Homo sapiens: one gene and its partner. The protein of the gene in region 1 purifies or fractionates together with the protein of each later gene. This does not show direct contact. Each region holds a gene or a part of one and is shown on either strand. Other genes may lie near its edges.

Region 1 (11,069 bases):
CCACAAGTTCTTTTTTTTTGTCCACATCATGGGATTTTTTTTTATAAGTTCACTGGTTTTTAGTCTATGTTCTATCTACTCTAATCACCTGAACATGTTTCCTAGCTTAATTTCATGTTTTTCGTCTGTGATGGAGTGATAAAATGAACATTTTCTGTTTATAACTTTTTGCAAGCTTAAAAAATGCCATATAAAATTGCTATTGACATCTGATTCAACATGGTGGGATGAGGGAAGGAGTTAAGGATGAGATTTTGAGCCTGAGTTCTGCAGTGTCTTTTGCACCTGTCTCGCCTTTCCTTCACCATTGTCATTCCCCAGAATTCAGGCCTACCTTATCTTTCACATTTGTGATGCATTTACAGAAAAATTGGCTCAGTCAGGGAAGTAATAGTTGGTAGTGTGTATCCAGCATTGCTCACGAGTTTTAAAAATAACCATGAAATATATAATATACATACTGAAAGTACATTTTTCTCCAAAAAACCTACTTCTCATTAAGTCATAGAGTGCTAACACTCATGTAATCCCAGTGTCTTAGAATGTTCGGCTTATTTGGCTCACGGTTTTGCAGGCTGTACAAGAAGCATGGTAGCAGTATCTGCTTCCAGTGAGGGCTTCAGGCTGCTCACGGTGGAAGGCAGACAGGAGATGACATATGCAGAGATCACATGGCGAGAGAAAGGAGAGAGGAGGTGCCAGTCTCTTAATGAACTCACTCCTTACAGAATACGAAGCCACTCATGAGAAATCCACTCCCACAACCCTTCCCACCAGGCCTCACCTCCAACACTGGGGATGAAATTTTAACATGAGACTTGGTAGGGTCAGACAAACCAAACTCAAGCCATAGCACCCTACTTAGGAACAGAACATCAACAGCACTCCAGAAGCACCTATTACCTCCCAAGCACTACTCCCTGCAAAGCTAACTATTTCTTTTCTTTATACTTTTACTACCTAAACATATATCCCTAAATCTAGATTGGTTTGCCTGTTTGTTGAACTTCCCATTTTCCAAAGTGGTTATACCAATATACATTTCCAGCAGCTGTGTAGTTTCAGTTACTCCAACTCTTGACCAACATCTGGCATTTTCTGGGTTTTCCATTTTAGCCATTCTGTTGGATGTGAGATTAAAATATCATTTAGGTTTTAATTTGCATTTCTCTAATGATTAAATTAGTTGAGTATCTTTTACATGTTTATCGGCCATCTACACGCCCCTTTTATATTTTTTAAGAAACTAATATTTAGATACCCTTTTTTGTGAGGTGACTGTTTAAGTTTCTACCTTTTTTTTTTTTTTTTTTTTTGAGATGGAGTCTTGCTTTGTCGCCCAGGCTGGAGTGCAGTGGCACGATCTTGGCTCACTGCAACTTCTGCCTCCTGGGTTCAAGCAATTCTCCTGTCTCAGCCTCCCGAGTAGTTGTGATTACAGGTACGTGCCACTACGTCTGGCTAATTTTTATATTTTTAGTAGAGACAGGGTTTTGTCATGTTGGCCAGGCTGGTCTTGAACTTCTGACCTCAAGTGATCTGCCTGCCTGGGCCTCCTAAAGTGCTTGGATTACAGGTGTTAGCCACTGCCTGGCCTCTACCCATTTTTTTATTGGATGTCTTCTTTTTTATTGATTTGTGGGAGTCTACAAATTCAAGATAGCAGCAAAGAGATGTATTTCTATTGTAGACATGAATGCATTTGGCTGGGTGTGGTGGATTACATCTGTAATCCCAGCACTTTGGGAGGCTGAGGTGGGAGGATCACTTGAGCTCAGGAGTTTGAGAATAGCCTGGGCAACGTGGCAAAACACAGTCTCTACAAAACATACAAAAATGAGCTGGGCGTGGTGGTGTGCACCTGTAGTCCCAGCTACTCAGGAGGCTGAGGTGGGAGGATCGCTTGAGCCCAGGTTGAGGCTGCAGTGAGCTGAGATCACATCACGGCCTTCCAGCCTGCATGGGCGACAAGGTGAGACCTTATTCCCTCCACCTCCCCAAAAGATGAAATGAATTCATTTGTTTGATGCTATTAGAATACCAGTAACTCCCCTTACTTTGGCCCCAAATTCACAAATGAACCCTCCAAAAGGTAATGCAGTTAACTTCATGCATTCTCTTTAAACAATGTACTGAGTCTTTATGCCAGGGAATTTGGAATTAACAGATACAGTACAGGTCTCTCATTTCAAAGTAGTATTCCTAATCATGAAGGAAATGAGAGACCTGTACTGGAATCCTGTCTTTAACACCTTTGAGGATGGTGAATTTAGGTAAGTTATTCAACCTATTTTAGCCTCGGTTTCTTCATTGGAAAAATGGGGCAAACAATACTTATTTTACAGAGTTGTGAGGATTAAATGAGACAATATATATAATATGCTTTGCACAGTGGCTGGCATACAGGAAACGTTTAATATATGGTAGCTACTATAAACTCGGTTATTTCCGTGTAGCTTTCCATGTCTACATGGAGGGAGAAAATGAGCAGATGTCCATTATAATTTAGCTATTACAGTTTTCACTCTAAAGTAAAAAAGGCATTTAGATTTATATGTCTTCTGGGAGTTTGGTTCTTCTGACTCCCTTCATCTGTGAGACCATAGGTACTTTTATGTAATATGATAAAAATTATTAGAAAAAGAAAAAAACGGCCGGGTGCAGTGGCTCACACCTGTAATCCCAGCGCTTTGGGAGGCCAAGGCAGGTAGATCACCTGAGGTTGGGAGTTCGAGACCAGCCTGACCAACATGGAGAAACCCGTCTCTACTAAAAATACAAAATTAGCAGGGTATGGTGGTGCATGCTTGTAATCCCAGCTACTTGGGAGGCTGAGGTAGGAGTATCGCTTCAACTCAGGAGGCAGAGGTTGCGGTGAGCCAAGATCGCACCATTGCACTCCAGCCTGGGCAATAAGAGCGAAACTCTGTCTCAAAAAAGAAAAAAATAAACTAAAAAGGAAAAAAGGGCCGGGCACGGTGGCTTACGCCTGTAATCCCAGCACTTTGGGAGGCTGAGGCAGGCGGATCACAAGGTCAGGCAATGAAGACCATCCTGGCCAACATGGTGAAACCCCGTCTCTACTGAAAATACAAAAATTAGCTGGATGTGGTGGTGCACACCTGTAATCCCAGCTATTTGGGAGGCTGAGGCAGGAGAATCGCTTGAACCCAGGAGGCAGAGGTTGCAGTGAGCCGAGACTGCACCACTGCACTCCAGCCTGGCGACAGAAAAAGACTCCCATCTCGAACACAAAAAACAAACAAAAAAAGGGAAATAAAGAATATGCAAAGTACAATCCCTCAAATTTTTATTAGACCCACAGAAATAAAATTAGTCTGTTAAACTGCTATAAGTTTCTAAATTCTTACTTTCTGTAAATGCCTTGACATGGATGTGTAACAAAGGGCTTACAGACTGGCACTGCCTTGTGGACCACACTTTTGGTGAGACTGCTCTAGAGCGCTGACAAAAATCAGACTTTGAATCCACAGGGCTGAAGTCAAAGCAACTGAAGGGTGTCCTGACTCACCAGCTGGCCACCTAGTGGCCTCCTTCTAGTCATAAGCACAACCTTGTGTCACTCCTTAGTTCAAAAACCATCCATTATTCTGCCTGACTCAAGGGTAAAATCTCAGTCCTTTAATCTGACATCCAAGGCCTTCCAGAGCTGGTTCTAAACAACTTTTTAAGTCTGACTTTCCACTATCCTCTACTTCACTAGACTGCATTGTCCAATATGGTAATAACTTGTCCCACTTGAAATGCAGAAGTGAAATGAGGCTAATTTAGGAACTGAATTCATAATCCTAACTTTAATTTAAAATAAAATTTAAAAATATACACGATTCGATTACCGTAAAACTTTTAAGTATGCTTGGAACGACTTGGGTACGTGAATCTATTTTTTCAGCTGGAAATTTTATGAAATCAAGTACTGAGATATGCTATAAGTATAAAATACACACCAGATTTCAAATGCTTAGTTATGAGAAAGATAATGTAAAATATTTTTAATATTTAGTAATTTTTTATGTTGATCACATGTGAAATAATATTTGGATATGCTAGGGGTTAAAAGTGTAATTAAAATTAATTCCACCTAGACAACATGCCCCAAACCTAGGCATCACTATTGATTCCTCCCTTTCCTCATTTAATTGGTAAGCAAGATAGGTCAGCTTTTTGGATCCATCCACTTCCCTCATCTCTACTGCTACTATCCTAGTCCATGATACTCCATTTCTTTTTTTTTTTTTTTTTTTTTTGAGACGGAGTCTCGCTCTGTCGCCCAGGCTGGAGTGCAGTGGCACGATCTCGGCTCACTGCAAGCCCTGCCTCCTGGGTTCACGCCATTATCCTGCCTCAGCCTCCCGAGTAGCTGGGACTACAGGCGCCCGCCACCACGCCTGGCTAATTTTTAAAAAAATTTTTTATTTTGAATAGAGACGGGGTTTCACCATGTTAGCCAGGATGGTCTCCATCTCCTGACCTCTTGATCCTCCCACCTCGGCCTCCCAAAGTGCTGGGATTACAGGCGTGAGCCACCGCGCCCGGCCAGATACTCCATTTCTTAAATCCTTCAATGGCTTCCAGTGCACTTCACCTTCTTATTGAGGCTGAAGACTTCACCTCCTATCATTCCTTCTTTTGGTCACTAGATTTCGGATACACTGACCTTGCTATTCCCTAAACACAACAAATTTTTCACCTTAGGGCCTTTGCCCAGCTATTCCCTTTGGTCTCACACTGTTCTTGTCCTTTCTAATACCTTCTCAGTGAGGCCATCTCTGATCAACCAACCACCAAAAGTTTGCTCTCTTTTCCCCAGAGTAACACTTTATCCAATCAGCTTTTAATTTTCCTCACAAACTCTTTTTTTTTGAGGCGGAGTCTCGTTCAGTCGCCCAGGCTGGAGTGCAGTGGCGCAATCTCGGCTCACTGCAGCCTCCGTGTCCTGGGTTCAAGCTACTCTCCTGCCTCAGCCTCCGGAGTAGCTGGAATTACAGGAGCGTGCCACCATGCCCAGCTAATTTTTTTCAGTAGAGACGGGGTTTTGCCATGTTGGCCAGGCTGCTCTTTAACTCCTGAACTCAGGAGATCCACCCACCTCGGCCTCCCAAACTGCTGGGATTACTGGCATGAGCCACTGCACCCAGCCTTCTTCACGAATTTATGGGATATTCTCTCTCCTCTTATTTTTAAAACTTGTTTATATGCTGTTTCCCTCTAAAAAACAGGAGTAGGAACCATTTGTTTTGCTGCTGCTTTACCTATTTCAGTGTGTAGAACAGTACCAGGCACAGAGTAGGTGCTCTTCCAACAGTGTTGAATGAATATCTAATTGCACACTACACATATATGACTGGTTGGCTCACATGCACTTCAAATTTTACATGGTCAAAACAAAGACTTCTTCCTTCCCTAACATATATTCTCTTATTTTGTTTCTAATCTCAGTGAAGACATTACTATCCTCCTAGCTGCTCCACCAACTCACTTGGGAGTCACCTGACATCTATCTCCCTCAGTCATTTTCAGTTAACCAAATCTCCCAATAACCACTTTATTTTCTTCACACCTACCTGCTACCAACTCAGTCCAAGTCATTACTGGCTCACAGCCTACTGTTTACTCCAAACTCTTCTGTTTGCCTCAAATTTTTGTGTAACAGTGATCTGTCTAAAATGAATTCAATCCTATGATTCTTCTACTTAAAATCTTTCAATATCTTCTTCCTGGTTCTCAGAAGCTGACTTCTGCACATAGCATTCAAGGCCTTCACAAGTAGACCTCCAGCATTGTCTTCTTTACCCAACAATCTCTCTAGTGTTTGCCTCCAAACATCTGTACTTACTGCTTCTCATCTAGAAAGTCTTCCATAATACCCTTATTAAAGCTAATTGCTTCTCTAGTCCCATTCCATTTTATTCCTCCCTCTTGGTTTAGTAAGGGGTTCCTCCTTTATTTGATTCCACAGTATTAAGTAGCTTCACTCTCATCATACTGATGATGCCTATTTACTTGTCTACATTCTACAGCCTAAGATTAATGGGGGCAACGATTCTGTAACAATTAGCTGAATGTTCACTCAAATAAACAATGCTCATTCAAATAATGCTACAGAAAAACATCAGAATTTGGCAAATTTCTATTAACTGAAGAAATGAAAATATTAAATCAAAAGAAAACACAGCCTATGGTTCCTATGCTTTTTTTCTATTTTAGGCACAATGCTTTAATAAATTACACAAAGACTACAAACCTTTATTACATCAATTGTTACAAAAGGCTAAGTGGAGAAAGATTACTTATCTGAAGCTGCACAAAATCAGTGGGCAATATGGATTTCATTTAAGCTTGTCAATTCTCCTGGATTAAATTCTTGGCGCTGTCTCACATATTCCCAAGTCCTACATGTAGGATGCTAAAAGTTGCAGTTACTAGGTTGGGAAAGCCATGCCCAGACGCCCCTGTGAAAAACATATCAATATATTAAGTTCCTTAGCAAATCACATCTAGATTAAGTTCATAATGCTTTTTTTTTTTTTAACTTTGCAAATCTCCAAACTTTTGCTACTTTCTTAATAAAATACAACAAAATTTTTGGCATTCCAGCCACGGAAAAACAGATCTCTACCTCTGAGGTGGCAGTAATCCAAGCAGTTACTAGGATCTACGAAACATGAGGCATAATTAGAATGTTGGGGAAAAAATCTACAGAAATATCTATATCTTCGTCATGAACCTGACTGTTGAGTTTATGAAAAAGTGGAAAAGGAACCTCACTCGTTCCTTCCCTGGTACCTTCACAGCGTCTCCCGTCCCAGTCTGCCTAGTTGAATCTAGGGACACTTAAAGGTAAATCCTAGCCTCTTGGCTGTCCTTCCGTCTCCCAGGATTCTGCTAGGCCGCACAGTTGGCAAGCTTAAAACTCCAAAGATTCCGCACTCTCCGTCTTTCAACAGTCATGTCACAGAGACACGAAGGTTAGCACAGGAACATTAGTTTCCAAACTCCTACCCACCGCAGAACAGGCGGGAAGGTTCGGTGGCCACCCGGCCTCTCCGCCGCGCACATGGCCGTCCGCAGCTCCCACCCCCGCTGCCGCGCAGGCGCCGGGCGAGCCGGGACTTGCGGTCGCCGAGAGCGGATCATTCCGCCGCTTTCTTTGTGTGGCTGAAGCGCTAGAAATGGCATATTTTCTTTCCCTTCGTTAAAAAATCAGACCCTCTTTCCCCTCTCTCCCCGCGGGAACACAGCTAGGGAGTGGGTAGGAGCAGGATCTGCCGACGAGGGCAGAGGCGGAAAATCCTCGGGCGATGAGCTGAAGAGGGCCGGGTCCGGGAGGGATGCTGGGAGCTTGACTCACTCGCACACCATGTGTCCCTCCGCGCGCAGCACGGGGGACTTTTCGGTGGGGATTTTGGGCGCCGACCAGACGCGGCATTTTCGGAAAATAGCGCCCTGTGCAGCTGAAGCGCTTTGTGTGTAGCGGGGCCGCGTCAGCCCGGCCGGGTACGAGGCGCCTCGGGTCCCCGCACCACCTCCTGCTGCCTTCCCGTCGCCGCTCCCGAAGCTTTTCCAGGTCAGTGCGGGTCTGTGTAGGGCCCTGTTACCACCGGATGTGGAAGTTGATCTCTTCGCTGGTAAAAAATAATTCCACTTCCCCCGGAACCCAGATCATCCCCGCGATTTCCTGTTTATTGCATTAAGGCGCCGGGTTTCCGGGGCTCCTGGCCCCGCTTATTCCGCGGGGGTCGGCGGGGTCGGCCTGGGCGCCCGCGCCGCCGCTGCGCTTTGTCCGCTGGGCACACTGCTTCTGGGAGGGGCGGGCAGACATGGTGGCGGCCGCCGCCCCCTCCTCGGCCCTAGCATGCCGCGGCCGCCTCGCGGCTACCCGGCTTGCCGGTCCCGAGCGGCAGCCCCGGGGTGGCGATGGGGTCGCGCCGAGGCAGCGGAGGTTCTGCGGGCGACTGGAGGTTGGCAGTGGGCGGGAGAAAGAGGAAGGCAGGCGCGGCTGGGCCTCGGCCTCTGGCGCCGCGGTACCCTTTGTCTCGGCAGCCTGACGGCCCCGCCGGGCTCTCCGGAGAGGGGAACGGGCGGCGAGGGTGGCGGGTCCTGGGCGCCCTGTGCTGCGGGGCCGAGAGGCGCTCGGGTCGCGGCGGGATCGGCCGGACCAGACAGGGTTAATGGAAGAGCCTGGCCAGTCCCGCGCGGGGCCCCCGCAGCGACAGCCTTGGCCGCGGGGACTGGAGTCCTGAGGGGGAGAAGCCTGCCGTTCTGAAGGCTCGGGACTTCTGCCCCAAAGACTTCGCCGCCGAGAACTGCGGGTGCACTGCCTCAGGGAAGAAGTTGAGAATTTTGCCAGGTCATCTCTGCCAGGGCACAGTTCATCACTGTGTGTTTAGTGTGTTTCGGTGAAGCTCTCCAAGTGTGTTGAATCAGCGTGCCTAGCCTCAAGGGTGCATCGTGAAAACTGAAACCAAAGGAATGATACAGGCCTGCTTTGTGTGTGTCTTCCCACTTTAAGCTTGTTTTCAGTACAAATACTCTTGCTTTAAACCTGATTGGACTGTGGCGAGCGGACATCTGTTCAAAGGAGGGGCCGAGACCACAGTACTTCTGAAGGGGGCTTGATAATGTGGAAACATTTTAAGTTTTCTCTCCGGACTGTTTTGCTCTCTCAATTCAGGCAAGTTACTGAAGTACGTTTTTTATCTAGAAAAAGGTTTGATGTAGTCTGTAAATGGTCCTTGTAAAGTACATTGCCATCTCAGAATTAAAAGATCCACTCTCATTTATTATGCAGAAGTTAGTGGTCATTCTTTCCTGTAGATAGTTTATCTCATGTAAAGACCCACCCAGCTTGGTTTAAATTTTTTTCTCACTGACGTATAACCATCAGCTTTGATACTTCCATTTTCAGGCTCAGACTTTGAATTTAAGGAAACTAAAGATGACTTTATTTTCTTTTCTCTTGGTTTTTTTTTTCCAAAAACAAAAAATAAATCCATTACATGTTAACATAGATGATAAGAGTGACATCTTGCATTTTTGCAAATCTTTTTAATGCCTGGTTTAATAGAAGATTCTCAGATCTACGTCAGACTGTTGTGGTTAGCACACCATGTAACCTCTGGAACACTCCACTGTACACTCATACTTTTTTAAAAAAAAAACCAAAAAACAGAAATGTGTCATTCTTACCGTGCTTTCACCATACAAGTCAAATCAAGCTGTTATGCAAGACACATTTTAACAAGACTGAATAAGATTGATTCCCATACTTTTTTTACTGGGCTCTAACTTTTTTAAAAGTTGGAATTTAGGTGACTAAACAAAATCACAGATGAAGACTGCATAATCTGCCTATGATCTCGGAGACTCAGGAACATTCGAAGATATTCTTAAGTGATTAAAACATTTAATTCTATTACATATTTATAATGATTTACACAAGTAACACGTGAATTCCACATATGCTATCAACACTTGTGTAAATGTTATCTTTAAAGATAGAACATGTTGAAAATTATAGGAGGTACAGATTTTACAGAAAATTAATTCTGCAGTGAATCCTTTGGTGAAACGAACAGTTTGCAGAGACATATCCTTAGAGTTCTTTGTCTCTCTGAATCATTCTGGGTTTTCTAGGTTGGGAGACAATTATACTTATTGGGAGACAATTATACTTAATTGATTAATGCATAAAAATTTAAGGCCGTATTTTAATGGCTTTGAAAGGAAGCTAAGTTTGTTTCCAGTTGTTTCTGTGAACTGTAGTCTGAATCTGTCAGTCTATAGTTCTCTACTGTTCCATCAACAGGAAGCATCTGGTCATTCTTCGTGTAATTGTTAGAAAATACCAGGTGTACTTTTAATGTTTGCTGTTCAAACGAAAATAGATTGGATCTTGGTTAAGTTCACTTGGTTTGGCCAGGCACAGTGGCTCACGCCTGCAGTCCCAGCACTTGGGGAGGTGGAGGCGGGCCGATCACCTGAGGTCAAGAGTTTGAGACCAGCCTGGCTAACGCGGTGAAACCCCATTTCTACTAAAAATACAAAAAATTAGCTGGGCGTGGTGGTGCGCGCTTGTAATCCCAGCTACTCGGGAGGCTGAGGCAGGAGAATCGCTTGAGCCAGAGAGGCAAAGGTTGCAATAAGCCAAGATAGCGCCATTGCATTCCAGCTTGGGCAACAGGAGCGAAACTCTGTCTCAAAAAAAAAAAAAAAAGTATGCTTGGTTTTAGTGTGTTTTTTCCCATAACATTGTGTCATTGTAATGGACCACATCTCCTGTACCATGAATTTTTTTTTACTTTTTTCTTTTGCCCCTCAGTACCAGAAATATTAACAGGTAACAGGTAAAGTGCACGTCATGAGGAATTCAGAAATTCAGAAATTACATGAAGTTTTGCATCATGAATTTATTTTTGAGGGTGCACGAGGCAGTTACCCAGTCTCTGTTTGCAAGTAGCCTGAGTTCAGATGAACTCACTGATGGCCTCCATCTCTTCTGACTTTGCAAACGTTGAAAAACAAACCCACACAAAATCTTGAAGTTGAGAGCAACTTAGTTTCCTTAGTGTCATCCCTCTGCTCCCCTCTCCTCCCCAACAACTAGTATGGTTTCCAGCTAGTAATCACAATGTTTCTATAGCTCTGATGTGCCTACATTGGGATAGCTACAATTAGTATTATAGTTTTCTGAAGATGTTTGTTCCATCATGCTTTCTAGAAGGTAAATCTAGCACTAGATGAGATCAGTATTAGGGCCTGTGTTTTTTCTCAGTGTTGACATCACAGTGCTCTATACAAAGAAGATGCTTTGGTGCAATCAGCTGTCAGTTCAGTTGGTGGGCTAGTGCACCTTTCTGTCTCCCTCCCTCCCTCCCTCCCTCCCTCCCTCTTTCCTCTCTCCTTCTCCCTCTGTCCCTCTCCCTCTCTCTCCTTCCCTCCCTGTTTTCCCCTTTGCACCTCTTCTTTCTTTGACAGGGTCTTGCTTTCTCTGTTACCCAGGCTTAGTGCAGTGGTGCGATTATACTTCACTGCAAGCTCCACCTTTC
Region 2 (10,466 bases), on another chromosome or scaffold:
GCCCGGTGCTCTCAAGGAGAGCTGAAGCTAGTTATTGGGTGCAGATGCTGGCTCTGACCCCTGCCCCTTCCTCCCGGGCTCAGCTTCCCCATCTGTCATGGAGTAATAACAACCCAGCCTTCTGGTCCACTGAGGAATGTGTGTGCCTGTGTGTTTGACGCTCTCAGAACAGGCCTGCAGCGCTGTGAGCCTTGGAAGGGGGCCTCACAGCTGCTGCCGCCACCTTGGAGGCCCAGGATGGGACTGAGAAGGGGAAGGGAGAGGTCAGAGCCACAGCTGTTGGGCAGGGACCTGCTGTAGGAAGAGAAGGCCAGGGAGGCGCTGGTGGTGGCCTCAGGCTATGCAGGTGATGCCCATTGTTTCCAGGGCCATCCCAGTTTGGAGGTTCCTGTTTCTAGAGGAGGTTCCCTTGTGACCCCCTCATTTCCACACCCGAGCAATGCTGAGGGCTGTGGGGCCCCCAGGGGCTTGAGTGTGGTTTATGGCACAGCAGGGACTGATCACAGTGGCACCGGGTGTCAGTGGCCAGTGGTCAGTGGCCAGGAACCCTCAGGACCCTCCTCCTTGTGTGGGTGGCATTTACCCACCCACAGGTCACGCTCAGGACCCGCATCTCATTCCGATCCTCCTTGTGTGGGTGGTACTTACCCACCCACAGGTCACGCTCAGGACCCCACATCTCATTCTGAAGGCCGGGCACAGGCGGTTGTTTTCTCTCCAACTTCGGTTTCCCCATCCCCACTCTTAGGGCACAAATGCAGGTGTAGCTTCCCCATGCCCACTCTTTAGGCACAAATGCAGGTGTAGCTTCCCCATCCCCACTCTTAGGGCACAAATGCAGGTGCAGCTTCCCCATCCCCACTCTTAGGGCACAAATGCAGGTGCAGCTTCCCCATCCCCACTCTTTAGGCACAAATGCAGGTGCAGCTTTCCCATCCCCACTCTTAGGGCACAAATGCAGGTGCAGCTTTCCCATCCCCACTCTTAGGGCACAAATGCAGGTGCAGCTTCCCCATCCCCACTCTTAGGGCACAAATGCAGGTGCAGCTTCCCCATCCCCACTCTTAGGGCACAAATGCAGGTGCAGCTTCCCCATCCCCACTCTTTAGGCACAAATGCAGGTGCAGCTTCCCCATCCCCACTCTTTAGGCACAAATGCAGGTGCAGCTTCCCCATCCCCACTCTTAGGGCACAAATGCAGGTGCAGCTTCCCCATCCCCACTCTTTAGGCACAAATGCAGGTGCAGCTTCCCCATCCCCACTCTTTAGGCACAAATGCAGGTGCAGCTTTCCCATCCCCACTCTTAGGGCACAAATGCAGGTGCAGCTTCCCCATCCCCACTCTTTAGGCACAAATGCAGGTGCAGCTTCCCCATCCCCACTCTTAGGGCACAAATGCAGGTGCAGCTTCCCCATCCCCACTCTTAGGGCACAAATGCAGGTGCAGCTTCCCCATCCCCACTCTTTAGGCACAAATGCAGGTGCAGCTTCCCCATCCCCACTCTTAGGGCACAAATGCAGGTGCAGCTTCCCCATCCCCACTCTTTAGGCACAAATGCAGGTGCAGCTTCCCCATCCCCACTCTTAGGGCACAAATGCAGGTGCAGCTTCCCCATCCCCACTCTTTAGGCACAAATGCAGGTGCTGTGAGCGCTTTAGAATCCTCTGCTGCAGGTGACTTTGCTTCAGCGAACCACAGAATGTTCACATGGTTTTATGCATTTGTTATTTCAGGGAAAATCAAGGTTAAAGATGTCTTCAGAATTTGTATTTTTGGGCTGGGCACGGTGGCTCACACCTGTAATCCCAACACTTTTGGAGGCTGAGGCAGGCGGATCACGAGGTCAGGAGATCGAGACCATCCTGGCTAACACGGTGAAACTCCGTCTGTACCAAAAATACAAAAAAATTAGCCGGATGTGGTGGCGGGCGCCTGTAGTCCCAGCTACTCGGGAGGCTGAGGCAGGAGAATGGCGTGCACCCGTGAGGCAGAGCTTGCAGTGAGCCGAGATGGTGCTGCTGCACTCCAGCCTGGGCTACAGAGCAAGACTCTGTCTCAAAAAAAAAAAAAAAAGAATTTGTGTTTTTGAAACTAAATATAGCAGGTCATTAGTTACTTATAACTGGTGTTTTATTAATAAAAGAAGAAAAAATTTAAAAACAGCCATGATTCCAGCTGCACGGAGCCTGGATGGGAAAGTGCATCCTCTGGGCTGAGCACGGTGGCTCACACCTGTCATCCGAGCGGGCTGGGCGCAGTGGCTCACACCTGTCATCCCAGCACTGCGGGAGGCCGAGGCGGGTGGATCACCTGAGGTCAGGAGTTCAAGACCAGCCTGGCCAACATGGTGAAACGCTATCTGTACTAAAAAGACAAATTTAGCAGGGCGTGGTGGTGGGTGCCTGTAATCCCAGCTACTTGGGACGCTGAGGCAGGAGAATCTCTTGAACCCGGAGGCGGAGGTTGTAGTGAGCTGAAATTGCACCACTGCCCCCCAGCCTGAGTGACAGAGCGAGACTTTGTCTCAAAAAAAAAAAAAAGAAAGAAAGTGCATCCTCTGGTAGGCCTTGGGCCGGGGGCGGGCATGAGAGAGCTGCGCTGGGATGCGCTGCCAGGGCACACTTGGTGGGTCACACACTCTTGTCAACTGTTTGGGGGCTGGAGAGTAGTAGCACTCAGCTCACACGGGCCTTCTGCAGGGAGTGGTGGGAGGGCCTGTGAGTAAGGGCTCCGGAAGGCCCATCATTGGGACCTGGTGCCGCCAGTGGGAGCAGGAGGAGCCTGTGCCTTCTCTGGCGCCAGTCATCCCAGATGCCACTCAGGGCTTGGCTGGGTTTGCCAGCTCTCCAGGTTGGCACTGGTAACGCCAAGATGGTCCTGGGAGCCCATCTCCATTCAGCCTCGAGTTCCCTGGCTTCACTGAGGGAGGAGCCGTGATAAGGTGGCTGTGGGTTCGCATTTTGGACTTTGTTATGTCAGAGTCTGCTGTGTTTTGTGTTTATGGTGGCAGCTGGATGAGGGCCAGCGACTTCAGGTGTTGACTGTCATGGTGGGCCCAACAGTATCCCTGCAGCCACAGCATCCTGCCTGCTGCCCTTTGCCTGTCCTGCAGACGCCAAGGCCCTAGAGCTTTGCTTTGATGGGATGTACCCATGTGGGTGGACACTGGAGGGAGCTGGAGGGGATAGAAGCGGGGCCTTCACTAGGGGCCAGGACAGACCCTTGCACTGTGAAAAGAGGCCTGGGAATGGAACTGTCCGATGTTCTGAAGGCACACGGGGCCCCGCCGTCTGGAGCAGGGGCACCTTGCGGGCTGCATGGCCACTCTGTGACGCTCGTTCCCCACAGACGTGGTTGAGCTTGCATTTTCTCCCCTCAGCACAGTCTCATTTGGGAAGAGGAAAGGGAAACTTGCACGCATGGGCCGGTCAGGGCACTGAGAGGCCTTTCTGCTCTGGCACTGCCTGCCAGGCGTGCACCTCAGGGGGCCCGTCCGCTCTAGCAGGCAAATGGGGCGTGTTCTCTGTAGTCAGAGGGGCTGTGAGAAGACAGGAAAGCGAGCTTAGTGGGTATCAGGCAAGGGGGTGAAATTGGGTTGTGAGATGAGAAAGCAGCGTCATTGCAGGGCTGGGGGGCCGAGACTCGGCAGGGTCGCCGAGAGCTCAGTGAGCGAGCAATGCACAGGCGGCTCCTCGCCGCAGGGGCCTCTGGGGGCCGAGGGGCTCTGGGCCTGCACCCCCTCTGTAGACACCTGGCGAGTGTCCACCCCTTGGCCCAGCTCCTTTCCTCAGTTTTCCTCGGGCGTGCTCCCAGTGCTTTGTTTGCTTGGCTGTGGGTGGTGACCCGCCCATGCTGTCTGGTTGATTTAACTGGTGTGTCTTCCAGCTACAAGAAGACTCAGGAAACTCTTTCACAGGCAGGACAGAAGACTTCAGCTGCCCTGTCCACAGTGGGCTCTGCCATCAGCAGGAAGCTTGGAGACATGAGGTGAGACGCAACCCTGACTCTGCTGCCCTGAGACCTGGCCAGGAGTGAGGTGAGGTGTTGGAGGTGCTACAGGAAGCCTGCCTGGAGATCAGGGCTCAGATGCACTGGCTCAGGGATGTGGCCATCCATCATGGCCCCGACCAGTCTGTGTGCAGACCCTTGCCTGGGAGGTTCGTCCATCCCCGTTGGCTGCTTTTCTGCCGTTGCTGTGTTCTTCAGGGAGGGTTGGCTGCCAGTGCTGTTGGGTAACTTGTGGTGCTCGGGGTTGGTGAGGGAGGAGTCTGCACCTTGAAGCTTCACTGAGTGGCAGCGACTCCAGCCCAGGGGTCAGAGTCAGGTCAGTGTGGGACGGCAGTCCTCCACCATCTCTAGGACAGGGGCTCGGCGTGGTACTTCCTCAGGCTGTTTCCCAGGTCTCAGAAAGTGCAGTCAGACGCCAGGAGGCCCTGAATGAGCCTTCTCTCCCAGAGGCTGGTGAAAGCCTCCTGGCCATCAGAGGTCCCTCAGCAAGCAGGGCTGGGGCCAAGGAGTGAGCAGGGGGCCGGCGCTTTGTGGCTGGCATGTTTGCTCTTCCTTCCCTGTTCTAGGCTCCCTGACTACAGCATGGTGATGAGGGGATTGAGCCAGAAGCCTGGGTATGATGCTTGGCTGGGCTACCTCCTGGCTGGGCACCCCAGCTGGGCCTCAGGCACGCCTTCTTTCACAGGGGTTGTAGGAGTGGATGATATAGGTTGTCACCATCAACAGCATCCTGGCCCCAACTTCTGGGTGCTGCTGCCCACCCTGCCCTGACCCCTTTCCCATTCTCAGAACTGGTCTTCTGGCTTTTGGATCTCAGGGAGTGCCTCCCTGTAGCTCTGACCCAATCCTGGCAAAGATGGGTGCAGGCTTCCTAAAGGACCGGTGTGTGGAGCACAGTGCTGACCCCACCCAGCCCTCCCCTCTTCCCCTCTTGTGGCCCCTGCAGGATTCAGAGATACGTACATCTCCTGCTGGGCTGCCTGCCTGCCTGCCTGCCTGCCTCCCTGCCTGCCTGCCTTAGGTTAGGTGTGTCCTGCCTCCCCGCCTGTGGTTGCCAGGTGGGGGTCGTCCTGCGCCAGTGCTTTCCCCTGACCACTAAGCCACAGGCCAGGACACAGACGGCCACACACACCCAGGGACCCACCCTGCCAAGCAGAGGGGATGGCCACTGCCCAGGAGCTGTGCCCACTTTTATTTTTGTTTTTTTGAGGTAATCTACCTTCCCATCCCTGCAACTTCTATTTCGAGAAGTTTTAAACCTCTGGAGAAGCTGCAGTCATCAGTATGCAATGTGTGTGTTTCCTCTGTGCACCCTCACACGCCCAAGGCTCCACACTCCCCAGCAGCTGTGACTTGGGGGGGTCCTTGTGGGGCACCCTACAAATGCAGGTCTTCCCTACCACTGCTGAGCTTTGGACCCAGGAGGGACCCCCTGAGTTTCAGCTGAACTCAGCCTCGCAGGGCTGTTTTCTTCCCGAAAATGCTGGTCTCACCACAGAGCATCTTCAGGAAGTAACAGGTGTTTGTTGTGCCTAAATTATGCCGGCCATCAGGAGGCGTTTGCCCACTCTTAGTGTCCACACTCCCTTTTGAGTTTGTTCAGACCATTGTGGTGGAAATCCAAGGGGCACGTGGAGCCCTTGGCACTGATTGGAATAGCCGTGCACAAGCCAGTCCTAGGGTTTTGATCTGGGCATTTGTTTGTATGGCCTGTTTTTCTCTGGAAGCACAGGGACACGGTCCTGGTTCTCTGTCTGCTCCTCCTTCTCTGATGGGGAGAAAGGCTTTCGCTCTCTGCTCAGTCCTGGGGTTGGCAGCTGACCCGTGTCGTGTAGCCTCAGGGCATGGCTGGCAGTGAGCAGAGTTCCTGTTGCAGTGACGCTGGCACAGCTGTCAGTGTGCCCAGCCACACTGTGCCACGTGTTTGCACGTGTGCCCTGGTACATGGGGCCAGCTGGGGGAGCGGGGCCTCAGGCTGACCTGGGACGAGCCAGCTCGCTCCAGTTGGCTGGCCGTGTTCACGGTGCCCGTGGAGGGTCCTGTTTGCTGGTGTGTCTTGCCCTGCTTGCTCCTCCATTTATGTTTGTAGTGGTGGTGGGAACTCTGACGTCTGGAGCCCCTGGTGTATCCCCATCATCTCCCCAAGCAGTCACAGGTGGTTTCTGAGGTCTGGGCCCATTCACCTCGAGTTAGAGACTGAGGTTGAGAGCTCACTACTTCCTGAAAGTGAAAATTGGGTTCTGGGAGGTTTATGTCATGAGTTTAGGGCTGGATGAACCCCGGCGGACCCCTGCTAACTCTTGGGCGGAAGCCCCTCTGGACAGCTGCCCAACGCCCGTGTCCATGATGGGCCTGTCCCAGGGCAGCCCCGGTCTGTGAGGCCTTTGGTGTGCCCTGGGGCATGGGTGATGGGGATGGGAGGAAGGGAACTGGATTCAGGTCAGAGTGGGGGTTTACAGCAGGGTCAGGTCACCGTCTGACTCCGTGGTCTCAGATGAGGCATCGGCCCTCTCAGGACCTCGGGCGAGTTGAGTGTTTCTCAGTTCTTCAGTGGCTCCCTCCATGTCAGAGTGGGCCTGGCTGCAGTGAGTGGCAGCAGCTGCCCTTGGACACACAGGTTTCCAGGTTGGCGTCTGTGGGCACGGATGGAGCGCAGAGCAGAAATGCTCGGCGCCAAGGGTGTCCCACATCCTCCCACGGTGCGTGTGCTCCCTCAGCTGACGTGATTTGGGGAACACGGGCCGCTCTCGTTCTGTGGAGCTGGCCAAGCCCAGCTGTCATGCTGTGGCACATTTCACACCTTTGCGCTGCTGGATGGGGCTGGTTGTGCTCCAGGTGCTGTGGCTTCTCCAAACAGGTGTGCCTTGGGGCATAAGGCGTGGACAGGGCGTGGACCCAGGGGCCTCTTGGGCACAGCCGTGAGGCTGAGCAGTTGCTAGTCATGATCTTGCGAGAGCCTCCTGTTGAGTCAGGACTTGAGGAGACTGGAGACAGTGCTGCTGTCCCCGGTGGTGTGCGGACTGGAGGAGCCGTCCTGGAGGGTCTTCCCCTGCTGGGCCTGACTGAGCACGAGCAGGGGGCCTCCCCTGGGGCTCCCCGAGGAGGGCTGTGAGTGGGTGCTGGCCTCCCTTGCTTACACTTCGTTTCCTCTTCTCTCCTGCTGCCACCTTCCAGGGCTCATCCATTTTCACACTCCTTTAGGTAAGGCTGAGCCTGGACACACCTGTGGAAGACTTTTCTCTGAATTGGGGCAGGGTGGACTCCGGCAGGGCCCTTGGGCGGCTGTGCTAGTAGAGGGCAGTGAAAGTGGGATCACCCCTTCCAGGACAGCAGTGCCAGCCAGGTGGTTGCTGCATCTCAGGGAACAAAGCAGCAGCGTGGGATCGACGCAGAGGCCCCCCGGAACCCCCCGGCCCTTCTGTGTCCCCTCCTCGTGCTTCCCTTCAGGCTCACAGACCGCCTGCTGCCGGGTCTGTGAATAACTGGCCTGGCGTCCAGGCCTGAGTTTACTCCTGAAAAGGAGCTTTTTTTTTTTTTTAGACGGAGTCTTGCTCTGTCGCCCAGGTTGGAGTGCCGTGGCGCGATCTCGGCTCACTGCAAGCTCCGCCTCCCGGGTTCACGCCATTCTCCTGCCTCAGCCTCTCCGAGTAGCTGGGACTACAGGCGCCCGCCGCCACGCCCGGCTAATTTTTTGTATTTTTAGTAGAGACGGGGTTTCACCGTGGTCTCGATCTCCCGACCTCGTGATCCGCCCGCCTCGGCCTCCCAAAGTGCTGGGATTACAAGCGTGAGCCACCGCGCCCGGCCTTTTTTTTCTTTTTTTTGTTGGAGTCTCGCTCTATCACCAGGCTGGAGCACAGTGGTGTGATCTCGGCTCACTGCAACCTCCAGCTCCCTGGTTCAAGCGGTTCTCCTGCCTCAGGCTCCTGAGTAGCTGGGATTACAGGCATGAGCCACCACGCCTGGCTAATTTTTGTATTTTTAGTAGAGACGGGGTTTCACCATGTTGGCCAGCATGGTCTCGATCTCCTGACCTCGTGATCCACCCGCCTTGGCCTCCCAAAGTGCTGGGATTACAGGCGTGAGCCACTGCGCCGGGCCCTCAAAGGAGCCTTTTCACGTGGGAGGGCTGTGCCGACTCTCACCACCTTCCTGTTCAACATCTGTCCTGTTTCCTTGTTTTCCTTCAGATGGAGTTTTGTCTTGTTTACTACCCGAGAGCCCATAGGTGTGCCTCCCAAAGGGCCCTCCTGCAGACCAGAGCAAGCTCCTCTAGGCCAAGCCGGGGCGCCGCCAGCACGTGCCCTTCTGCTGGAACCGGGAGGTCTAGAGCCAGGCCCAGAACAATCTGTGATTTCTTGTGTTTTTACTTGACTTGGTGGTTTCTCTTTTGCCAAAAGGTCCTTACTTGACTTCTGAAGGCTGTTTGTACCAAATACTTTTCAAAAGCCCAAGCCTGGTCTCCTCACAGCTTCCTATGGCAGTGCTCTCCCCCCTCCCAGTGCTATGCGCTGGGCAACTTGGGGTGCCCCCCATGAGGCCAAGGGAGGACCCTGGGGTCGAGTTTCCTTCGGGGGCATTGTGTGGAGGGGCAGGCAGCTCGCTCCAACTGCTGGGAGTGGGGGAATCCCAGCTCTGCCCATCCCTGCCAAGTTGGGGTTGTGTGTGGATCTTGGTGTTAACTCTTGCTTCCTTCTCTGCTTCTGCCATGCTTCCAAGCAGCAGCTACTCCATCCGCCACTCAATAAGTATGCCAGCCATGAGGTAATGTATGCCTGCTCGCTGCGGCTCCAGAGCCGGGTGTCTCTGGTGGGGGTTGGGGCAGCTCCCGCCGGTTACACCTTGCCCTTCCCATATTCCTGGATTAATTGAGGACTCCATTCCCTTGGCAACCTCTGATGACTAAGGGCCGGTAAAAACCCCCTCTAGGCTGACGAGGAAGAGCTGGTAGGGGGTCAGGCTCTTCACCTGCAGCCTCCAGAGGAGATCCTTGTGTCAAACTGGGCCGTGTCCTTTCCAAGTCCTGACCCTGGCTGCCTGCAGTGGGTGGGGTGGGGTTCGAGGGGCTCGCACACAGATCCTGGCACTTGCCCTGGTGGGCTGTCACTCAGGACACTTCACGGTCTCAGCCTTCACGGAAACACCCAGAGCTGTGGTCCTTATTCTGTGCCTGTCAGGCACCACCCTGATTCTCAGGATTCTGTGCCTGTGCCGTGAGGCACTGCCCTGATTCTCAGGAGAGCCCAGAACTGTGGTCCCTATTCTGTGCCTGCGCCGTCAGGCACCGCCCTGATTCTCAGGAGAGCCCTGTTCTCCTTGTGGGGACTCTGGCTGGGTGTCGCAGACGTGCTGGCCTCTAGAGTCCCCGGGCCTGGGAGGGGTATCTGTTTGTGTGGGAGGGACTGAGTGGGATGGAGCTGGCCTGCTTTCTCCTCTTGTCTCCTTATCACTCTGCTGTCCCAGAAGTGTCCTTGGTCTTCCGTTTGCTTCTCTGAGAGATGTGCATGAAGAACTGCACAGACTTTTCATAACTTCAGTACGAGAGCCCAGGGTGTCCCTGTAGGGGACAGCAGAGAGGGGCCGACAGCCCCCCAACTGCGCAGACTTTTCATAACCTCAGTACGAGAGCCCAGGGTGTCCCTGTAGGGGATAGCAGAGAGGGGCCGACAGCCCCCCAACTGCACAGACTTTTCATAACCTCAATACGAGAGCCCGGGGTATCCCTGTAGGGGACAGCAGAGAGGGGCCGACAGCCCCCCAACTGCGCAGACTTTTCATAACCTCAGTACGAGAGCCCAGGGTGTCCCTGTAGGGGATAGCAGAGAGGGGCCGACAGCCCCCCAACTGCACAGACTTTTCATAACCTCAGTACGAGAGCCCGGGGTATCCCTGTAGGGGACAGCAGAGAGGGGCCGACAGCCCCCCAACTGCGCAGACTTTTCATAACCTCAGTACGAGAGCCCGGGGTGTCCCTGTAGGGGACAGCAGAGAGGGGCCGACAGCCCCCCAACTGCACAGACTTTTCATAACCTCAGTACGAGAGCCCGGGATGTCCCTGTAGGGTATGACAGAGAGGGGCCGACATCTCCCCAGCTGCACAGTCAAGGGGTTTCCAGTTGCCTTGTGTGACGTCTGGACCTGTCCCTGTGGTTGTTGGGCATGGCCGACCTCACTTTTGACCTGGGGAGTCTCCGGAATGACCTGGCTGTCTCACAGTTTTGCCATGAGATCTTGGGATGTTGTTAGGGACCCTTTGGAGGCTGGCCCTAACCCTGAGGCCCTTCCGAGTTAGGAGAGCAGCACAACCCTCTCCTCTTGACACCGACACTCTTCCCTCTCTCTTTAAAGGAACTCTGCGACCTTCAAGTCGTTTGAGGACCGAGTTGGGACCATAAAGGTAATTGTACCTGGACTGTTTGATGGTCTTGGCAAGGTGTGACCTGTTACAGCAACTTGT

What was found.
Region 2: the proteins of GABPB1 (region 1) and TPD52L2 purify together in Homo sapiens (affinity purification with mass spectrometry; 3 studies listed by BioGRID and IntAct, with this or other methods). This does not show direct contact.

The regions. Positions count from the first base shown.
Region 1 is NC_000015.10:50,351,504-50,362,572, reverse strand, and holds the start of GABPB1 (GA-binding protein subunit beta-1 isoform beta 2), read left to right. Parts: upstream 1-7,374; 5' UTR 7,375-7,588; exon of another isoform or gene 7,589-11,069.
Region 2 is NC_000020.11:63,878,833-63,889,298, forward strand, and holds part of TPD52L2 (tumor protein D54), read left to right. Parts: intron 1-3,886; coding exon 3,887-3,988; intron 3,989-7,183; coding exon of another isoform or gene 7,184-7,210; intron 7,211-8,731; coding exon of another isoform or gene 8,732-8,773; intron 8,774-10,357; coding exon 10,358-10,406; intron 10,407-10,466.